2 separate regions of the Homo sapiens genome follow, and region 1 is linked to region 2. A link means that fine-mapping ties the variant in region 2 to the expression of a gene that starts in the linked region. Tissue or cell type: testis. Region 2 holds a variant in brackets; the other region holds the start of a gene. All regions are shown on one strand. Distances are between the middles of the regions. Region 1 holds the start of PTTG1 (PTTG1 regulator of sister chromatid separation, securin). Region 2 has its middle 5.6 kb from the start of MIR3142HG.

The links. PIP is the estimated chance that this variant, and not a neighbour inherited with it, causes the effect.
Region 1: it holds the start of PTTG1, and the variant in region 2 is the best candidate, but not a certain one, in a credible set for the expression of PTTG1 in testis (GTEx, PIP 0.82).

Annotation. Positions count from the first base shown.
Region 1 is chr5:160,420,058-160,424,339 of GRCh38, reverse strand. PTTG1 (PTTG1 regulator of sister chromatid separation, securin) reads right to left here and starts at 2,485. Exons shown (of 6, transcript NM_004219.4): 1 at 2,449-2,485; 2 at 1,937-2,038; 3 at 1,447-1,631; 4 at 10-103. The coding sequence starts at 2,027. RefSeq lists an enhancer at 1,680-2,236 and silencers at 2,331-2,490, 2,591-2,650.
Region 2 is chr5:160,460,574-160,464,789 of GRCh38, reverse strand. No RefSeq gene overlaps it. Among named protein-coding and RNA genes, the nearest start is that of MIR3142HG, 5.6 kb to the left of the region's middle. RefSeq lists an enhancer at 2,276-2,355. The variant G/A (reference allele first, on the strand shown) is at 2,646.

The sequences.
Region 1 (4,282 bases), 40 kb after region 2:
AGATACTACCTAGAGGATTGAAGGGAAAGAATTTTTCTATTTCTGGATAGGCATCATCTGAGGCAGGAACAGAGCTTTTTGCTTTAACAGTCTTCTCAGTCATCTAGAACAGCCAAAGAAAATATGGGTTAGTGACAGTGGAAGTCTTATTAGCTGATTAGTTTTTAAATTTGTCAATTTCATGCTGCCTTCTAAGAAGCCATAATCCTTAGTTTTCATAATTGCACCTAAATATACTTCAAATAATATGATTCAAATGTAATTCGAGTAGCATGACTCAAAAGTTAAAATCTGAAATTTAAGTACCAGCACCTGTCAGCATAAGTGATCAAGAATGCAGTTAATTCAGAGCTAATCAATGCAATTATTCAACCTAACAGAGGAGAAAATGGGCATGAATCACCCAGGATAGTAGCTAATCATCAAAGCCATTTTTGGCTTATAGGAGTGTGATTTTTTCCACAAGTGTTACCTTAAATTATTTGCTTGGTTAATATTAAAAACAAGTTTGTGTTCCTCAAATACACACACTGAGTAAGAGGCAGCAAGACACTGTCAAGGACTTTAGAATAAACACCATGGGCAATCTTCTAGTCTGGAGTTGACAGGTCTACTACAGTCTACTATAGAAGGGTGCTACAATGGAAGCCGGCATGTTCCTGCTTTATCTCACCTCACATATGCATGCCTAGAATTCCCTATGGGGTTCTCACACTTCGGTTCTGTGTCTCATTGTTTTTGCCATGTCTTTGCAATTCCTGTATTTAATATTTTTCTTTAAGTTAATTCACTTTTTAAAGAAGACATCTTTGTCCTAAGTTGCACTATATGTAATTCACTAGTTGTTTCCTAATGCAAATTAAACAAAACAGTTATTCAAATAAAGTGTTAATCCACATGCTAATGTCATCTTTCACAGCAAAGTCCTCTCATCTGGGATACACAGACCTGTAGCTTGTGACTCACACTCACACGAAGATCAACATGCTAGCAAATTGTCACCTAACAAGCTGCTGCTTGCCCTGGAAGGCTAAGAGAATGGCAGCACCTGTGCTATTAAAGCAGCAACAGAACCTCTTAAGGCACCCTCTCTCTCAGTATGTATCTGTAAGTGGATACCACCAACCAGTTTCTCTTAAGGCACCCTCTCTCTCAGTATGTATCTGTAAGTAGACACCACCAACCAGTTTCACGACACTAGTGAAGGACAGGTGAGGCAAAAATATGCATGAGGCAAAAATATGCATTAGCTGCATCTGAGATTTCCAATCTCAAGGTACCAAGAAGTCCACAAGGACAATCTGAGTCTCCTCCACTACTCTGCTTGCTAACCTCTATTTCCCTTCTACTCAGAGGGAAGAAAGCTACGTAGGATGATGCCAATAGTCATTTTAAGAGTCAAAAGTGCTTAAGTGTTTAAACAGTGTCTTTATAGCCAACACTTACCTTTTTGGCAGAAAAGCTTGGCTGTTTTTGTTTGAGGGGTCCCTTGGTCTTTACAGACTTTTCTGTAGCTCTGTTGACAGTTCCCAAAGCCTTTCTAGTAGCTTTAGGTAAGGCTGGTGGGGCATCGAACGTTTTGCCAAAACGTGGTGTTGAAACTTGAGATCTCCCATCTAAGGCTTTGATTGCTGAAGAAAAAGTCTTACCATAAGAATATTCCAGCAGCAAAATACCTGTACAACTTAAATACTGTGTATATAAACTTGACCTCTCACCCCCAAACCCACCCCCCACTTTTGGTAGTGGCATGGCTATGATAGGCCTAATAGCAGAGATTCAGTAACTTCCTTAAATCATCTCATTAAGATATTAAAAATGAAAAAGGACCAATAACAAACGACTCCAATTGCCCAAAAAGTACACTAAATGTCTCGTCCAGCTCCAGGCCACGTCCACAATACCAGTGTATCCGACTGCAGCCTTGTATACTTACAAGGTCCAGACCCCAGCTTCAGCCCATCCTTAGCAACCACACGGGTGCCTGGTTCTCCATTTTCCTTATCAACATAGATCAGAGTAGCCATTCTGGATTATTCTAAGAATGAGAAATACATATTAGATATTGGGGAAGGTGGGAGAAGCAAAGGTATAGCAACATACCAAACTTTCTATCCTAGGAGTGTCCACACAAAAAACAAGAGCTAAACAGCGGAACAGTCACGGGCGTGAGCCAACAAGTACTTAATCCAGCTCTCAAATCTTCCAGCCTGAGTCAGAGGCTCTAAGGTCCCGAGCAGCGCGCGGTTTGGGGCTGGCACTCATCAGACAGTTGCCGTTGGTCCAGTTAGCAGTCCGAGACCACGCTCAAACGGGCTCGGAGCCATCTAAGCCCCGGGCAGTCCCCCAACCCCAGCCCCAGCTTCAGCCCCAGCCGCAGCCGCAGCCCGCCTCCTTCCCCGCCGGAGCCGGCTCAACTAACCACCCGCGACCCTCCCATTCACTCACGCAGGTCTTAACAGCCGCATTCATCTGAGGCCGCGGTGAACGGACGCGGCGCACTCCTGGTTTAAACCACAACTCGCGGCCCAATTGGCTCTTCCGCCCAGGAGGCGGGGCCGTGGGCGTGGTCACCAAGTAGAACCAATGGAAAGGACCTAAGCAGCCAGGGCTCCGCCCCAAAAGCTCTTTCTTGCAAACTTTGTGGCACGTTTTCTGGGAAGAAAAAACTAGGATCGTGTAATATTAAAAAATAAATCGAGAGGCTTTTTTTTTTTGCTCTCCATATTATTAAGCTGCATGGACTGAGGTACTGACTCAATAACAATGGTTTATTGCTTTAAGATATTTTTATTTAGATGACCCTGTAAAAAGGATGGAAAATAAATAGAAATATTGAAGAAATAGGGGAAACAACCAATGTTGGGTCTAAAGAATACTAGCAGAGAAGAATTTAAAATTAAGAAGAAATGTAAGTACAGGTAGATCAAACAGCAGCGTTTGAGTCATTCTCTTATGCTTATGATTAAGAACGAACTGATCGTTCCCTAATCTTAGGACTATCCTCAATACTTCAGGCTAAGACACTGTTTCTATTATACCATCACGAATCTGTCTTAGGAACAAAATTATGATTCTAATGAATACATAATTTAGTCTTCCCTTAAAATTCTATCCTTTGATAGTGATTTATTTTAAACCTCTAACATCTCAATAATATATTAACCAAAGTTGCCTGGAAGGGCTTGGCCAGGGAGCAAGAGAATATCAGAGAGATAATAAAGATATAAAAAAGGAATTCCAATTTCCCAGATATGAAAAGAAATTTTGCTTGAAAAAGTTGACGACCTTTTCCTGTTTCTATAGTAAAATGGAATACATTGAACAACTACAAGATGAAGATATAAATTAAAACATAAGGCTGACCTGTGTCATTCAAACTCCGCTTCCCACAGTTCACCATATATGCATTTTAAGCTGCAGATCAGCTGAGAGAGAGGAGTTGATTCCATATTACTCTTTCACGAAAGGCTTGACACTATACCTGACATAGACATGGTTCTCAATATATGCCAGTTCATCATCTCTTTTTCCCTGGCATTTCAGGACCAATATTGATTGAATGATTCATTCATTCACAAATATTTATTGAATACCTATTAAATGCTGGACATTATACTAGGTTATAAGAAAAGAGCCTAACTTAAGGTGAAGAAAAGAGGAAAGACAGAAAAATATGCATACCTTTATTGTCCCTTCACTGTTCTTTTTCCTTTATCCCCATCCTTTATTTCCTCCTGTATCTCCTAAATTTTACATCATCATATTATATTATCAGCACTCAAAGTGTTAATTTTTAAGACTAAATCTGCACAACACCTATAGCTTCCAAGTGGGGATTCTCTATCTACAGAGGTTTTGAGGTGCAAGGTTTGTCTTAGGATGTCTTCTTTTTTTCACCAACAGAAAGCATTGTTTCTCCTAAGGTCATGCAGCAGCTGTAAACCATAACCACCCTCTCTGAATAACCACTGTTTTCTTACTAATGATGCCCTCAGACCAGCTTTGCTATTCCTATTACTGGAAATACTCAATTGCTAAACCACCCTCACTCATAACAGCACTTAGTCCCTAATCAGTTTCTCCCAATCCTTCTTTACAAACAGCAACCCATCCAGAACCAATCCCGGCTTTCCTAGACCTTCCTCAGAACCCTCCAGAGGGACCTCAAGTCTTAGAAAAGATTCAACTGTCTTGTCCTGCGCTTTCTGATTCCTCTTCGAGATGCGCTCTCCTGGTGGTTTTGGCTAATTAGGCCTTAACACTCCTAAGCAAATTTCAG
Region 2 (4,216 bases):
AATGTCACAGTGTGGGCTCAAAAGTACAAAAATATAGACTGGAAAGATGACCCTCAGGTATGCCCTGAGTACTGTGGGGAAGTCTCCACCTGAATTCTTTGGCCCTCAGACTCTTTGATCTGGTAGTAGGAAATTGTGACATATACAATTATAAAAAAAATACCCCCAAGTGTCACGACAACGTTTGTGTTTCCAGCCCACTCGGTAGCTCAGATGCTTGGGGTTCTTAAACTCAGGAAATTCCCCAAATAGACAGCCGCTGTTGGGGTAAGGATTAGAGCTGGTACTTGATCAGCTGGCTTGCAGTTTAGATGGGGCTCAGACTCGGGATGCAGCTCTCCCTTGTCCCTGCAGGTTCAAGTGAACCTGCTGGACTTCCTATATCCAAAGAAAACTCTCATGTAACCAAATGCCCTTTGGCCCACGAAGGTGCTGCATATCAAGCATAATAATCATTAGACACCCTCCTGCCTGCCACAGCCCACACTTTCTCCCTCCTTTCATCAGAGCACAAGCCTGTCTGGCAGAGATACCTTATACCATGTTTTTGAATTTTCATTTGTGCAGAACTTATCTCTCTGACCAGTTTAAATACCTGTAAAGGCAACAAGAAATCGTCGAAAAGCTGGGCTTTAGACTCTTGCTGAGAAAAACTAACTTGAATTCTCTAAGCCATTCTTTAATAAAATCAGAAGTAACAAATACCTGACAGGTTGCATTAAAGATTACATTTATTTTAAAAGCCAGTAAAGTGCCAAACATAATACATGATTCATAGCAGCCCCAGGAAATGACAGAGCAAAGAGATCACCTACTAAATATCTTTGTTGTGTGTCTCATGTGGCCTTTTCCCAAGCTGGACATCCAGAGCGCTATCTAAAGCATTGCGCAAGGGAAAAGGATCACATTACGCTGCCACTATCAATATGCAGAAAAACAATAATGATACCAGCTGTGTTCCTGCATCCTGAGACTCTGCTCCTGAAACTGAAAATGTGTAAATGGGAAATCTCTGCATAGCTAGATGTGGAAACAAAGGAACTGGGCCTATAAGAGAAGCACAGCATCCTCTCCTTCAGAAGTCCACAGGGGCTGGAGTACTGATGATGGCACACAAGGGCACCATGAGTTTCTGTGCATACTAACATTGCAGACTGCCATACCTGGAAGGTGAACAGAGGAAAGGCAGGCATGACTTACCAAAGGGAACACATCCTTGCCCAGCAAACTAAGGAAGTCACCGATAACGTGGGCAAGGATTTAGCCAAAAAATGTTCATGAGTAAAGCTGTTTTAACATCAAAATATTAGCAACAAATTTAATTGTCCCAAACTGGGAATTGGTTAAATTATGGCACATCTGCAACGTAAGCACATTTACTCTATTTTAAATGACGATGCTAAAGAATACTTAACTTTTTTAAACCTTCTAGCTGTCTTTTGAAAGGGAAAATAATGCTATGAAATGCTTGTTGTTGTCATCTAGTATCTGTGCAAAAAGCAAAACAGCACACCAAAAAGATAAGAGGAAGATGGGACTATGTGAGATCTTTCTTACCTTTTCTCATCTGTGCTTTCTACATTAAAAAAAAAAAAAAAAAAAAAAAAAAAAATTAAAGCCAGCCGCAGTGGCTCACACCTGTAATCCCAGCACTTTAGAAGGCCGAGGCGGGCAGATCACTCAGTCAGGAGTTCAAGACCAGCCTGGCCAACATGGCAAAACCACGTCTCTACTAAAAATGCAAAAATTAGCTGGGCATGGTGGCACATGCCTGTAATCCCAGCTACTTGGGAGGTTGAGGCAGGAGAATCACTTGAACCCAGGAGGCAGAGGTTGTAGTGAGCCAAGATCGTGCCACGGCACCCCAGCCTGGGCAACAGAGCAAGACTCCATCTCAAAAAAAAAAAAAAATTAACCATATTAGACTTTTATAAAAAGGGGGAATTTGTTAGTTTGAAAGATAGATAAAGGAAGAGAGAGAGGCAGGAGGAAATATAAGGGAAGGAAAGGAGATCAGAAAGCAGGGATTCATAGACATCTTCCCCCCAACCTGCTTCCCCCTCTACAAACTCTGCCTCTTCAAAACCTCTGGGTGAAGAAAAACAACACTAGCCATGCTGCTAGTAAAACATTACAGACAAAAGACTAGAAACATAGATCCAATGCACCAACAGATAGTAAATATTTATAGAGCAGAGATAAGTGCCATTTAAGGGTAATTTGAGGCAAACAGTGGTTGTCTTTCTCATGCATTCTAAAAGCATGAAAGTATTAAAAAAACTACCCAAAAGTTTTCAACCAAGTAGAATGATCTAGGGCAATATGGGAACATCATCTTCTTTCAAAAGCATCTCAAGGGAAAATACAGTTTACAGCAAATAGTATTAGGGAAATGATTACGTAGAGCAGAACTTCTTGTGGTTCCCAGCCTGAGTCTGGTAAAAACCATGGCACAGTGTTGTGACCAGAGGGTTGGAGGATGCAGACTGCTTGGCTGCCATCCCTTCACTTCTGCTTGCCAAATGAGCCACCTACTTGGTCTCTGTCTGCCTCTGTCGCCTCAACCTGGGGACAGAAAAAATATTGGAGGCTGGGGACAGTGGCTCATGCCTGTAATCCCAGCACTTTGGGAGGCCAAGGAGGTT[G/A]GATCACTTGAGGTCAGAAGTTCAAGACTAGCCTGGCCAACATGGTGAAACCCCATCTCTACTAAAAATACAAAAATTAGCTGGGCATGGTGACAGATGCCTGTAATCCCAGCTACTCGGGAGTTTGAGGCAGGAGAATCACTTGAACCCAGGAGGCAGAGGTTGTAGTGAGCCAAGATCACATCACTGCACTCCAGCCTGGGCGACAGAGTAAGACTCCATCACAAAAAAAAAAAAGAAAAAAAGAAAAAGAAAAAAGAAAAAAATATTCGTACCTCACAGGGCTTTTATTAGGATTAAAAGAGTTGCTGCATGTAAAATGTTTAGAGCCATTCTGACGTGTAGGAGGTAGTCCATAAATAAACAGTTGATTATTCTGGTGGACAGTTATTATGTACTGGCTGTCTAGCATCCATTTCCCTTCCTAATACTTTTCCAGATTCAACCCCTAGGCCACAGACCAGTATGGGTCTATAGCCTGTTAGGAACCAGGTCGCACAGGAGGAAGTGAGCAGAGAGCAAATGAGCCAAGTTTTACCTGTATTTACAACCGCTCCCCATTGCTCCTATTACCGCCTGAGTACCACCTCCTGTCAGATCAGCAGCTGCATTAGATTCTCATAGAAGCGCGAACCCTATTGTGAACTGCACATGCAGGAGATCTAGGTTGCACCCTCCTTATGAGAATCTAATGCCTGATGATCTGTCATTGTCTTCCATCACCCCCAGATGGGACGGTCTAGTTGCAGGAAAACAAGCTCAGGGCTCCCACTGATTCTACATTATGGTGAGATGCATAATTATTTCACTATATATTACAATGTAATAATAATAGAAATAAAGTACACAATAAATGTAATGCACTTGAATCACCCAGAAACCATCCCCCTGCCCTGGTCCATGGGAAAATTGTCTTCCACAAAACTAGTCCCTTCTGCCAAAAAGGTTAAGGACCACTGGCTTAAACCATTCTTCCAAACAGTGATGATTGTTTCAGAAAAGGACCCAAGACCCAATTCAGGCCAATAAGACAGAAACAATCAGAGGTTTGTGAAGAGTCTCCAGAAGAAACCCTCTCTCTTCCCCTGGATAGTGTTGAATATGAAGATGGGGCCTCGCCAGGATTAAGCCTGTAATCTGAGCATCTCGTGGGCTGAGGCAGGAGGGTTGCCTGAGCCCAGGGGTTTGAGTCCTTCATGGGCAACATAGCAAGACCTTGTCTCTAAATAAATAATTTTTTTAAAAAAGAAGAATATATAGCCTGCAGCTACCATAGCCTTTTGGCTACCATAAGGGGGAGTCTGGAGCTGCCAGAGGGCTCCAGATAAGAGTTGAAAATAAAGCCAATACTAAAGAAAGCTCTTGTTGATATCACCGGAGTCCCTAATTCTGGCCTTACCTGAGGTCAAATCTCCTGCTAAACATCTCAGCTATATAAAACAATAATCTGCTATTTAAGCCAATTAAGTTTGGTCTTTTGTAATTTGCACATAAGAATCCCTAATTGATACACTTGTCTCAGACGAATAATCCTTTGCATTTCTTTCTCTGGACACTGACTACATTCCAGG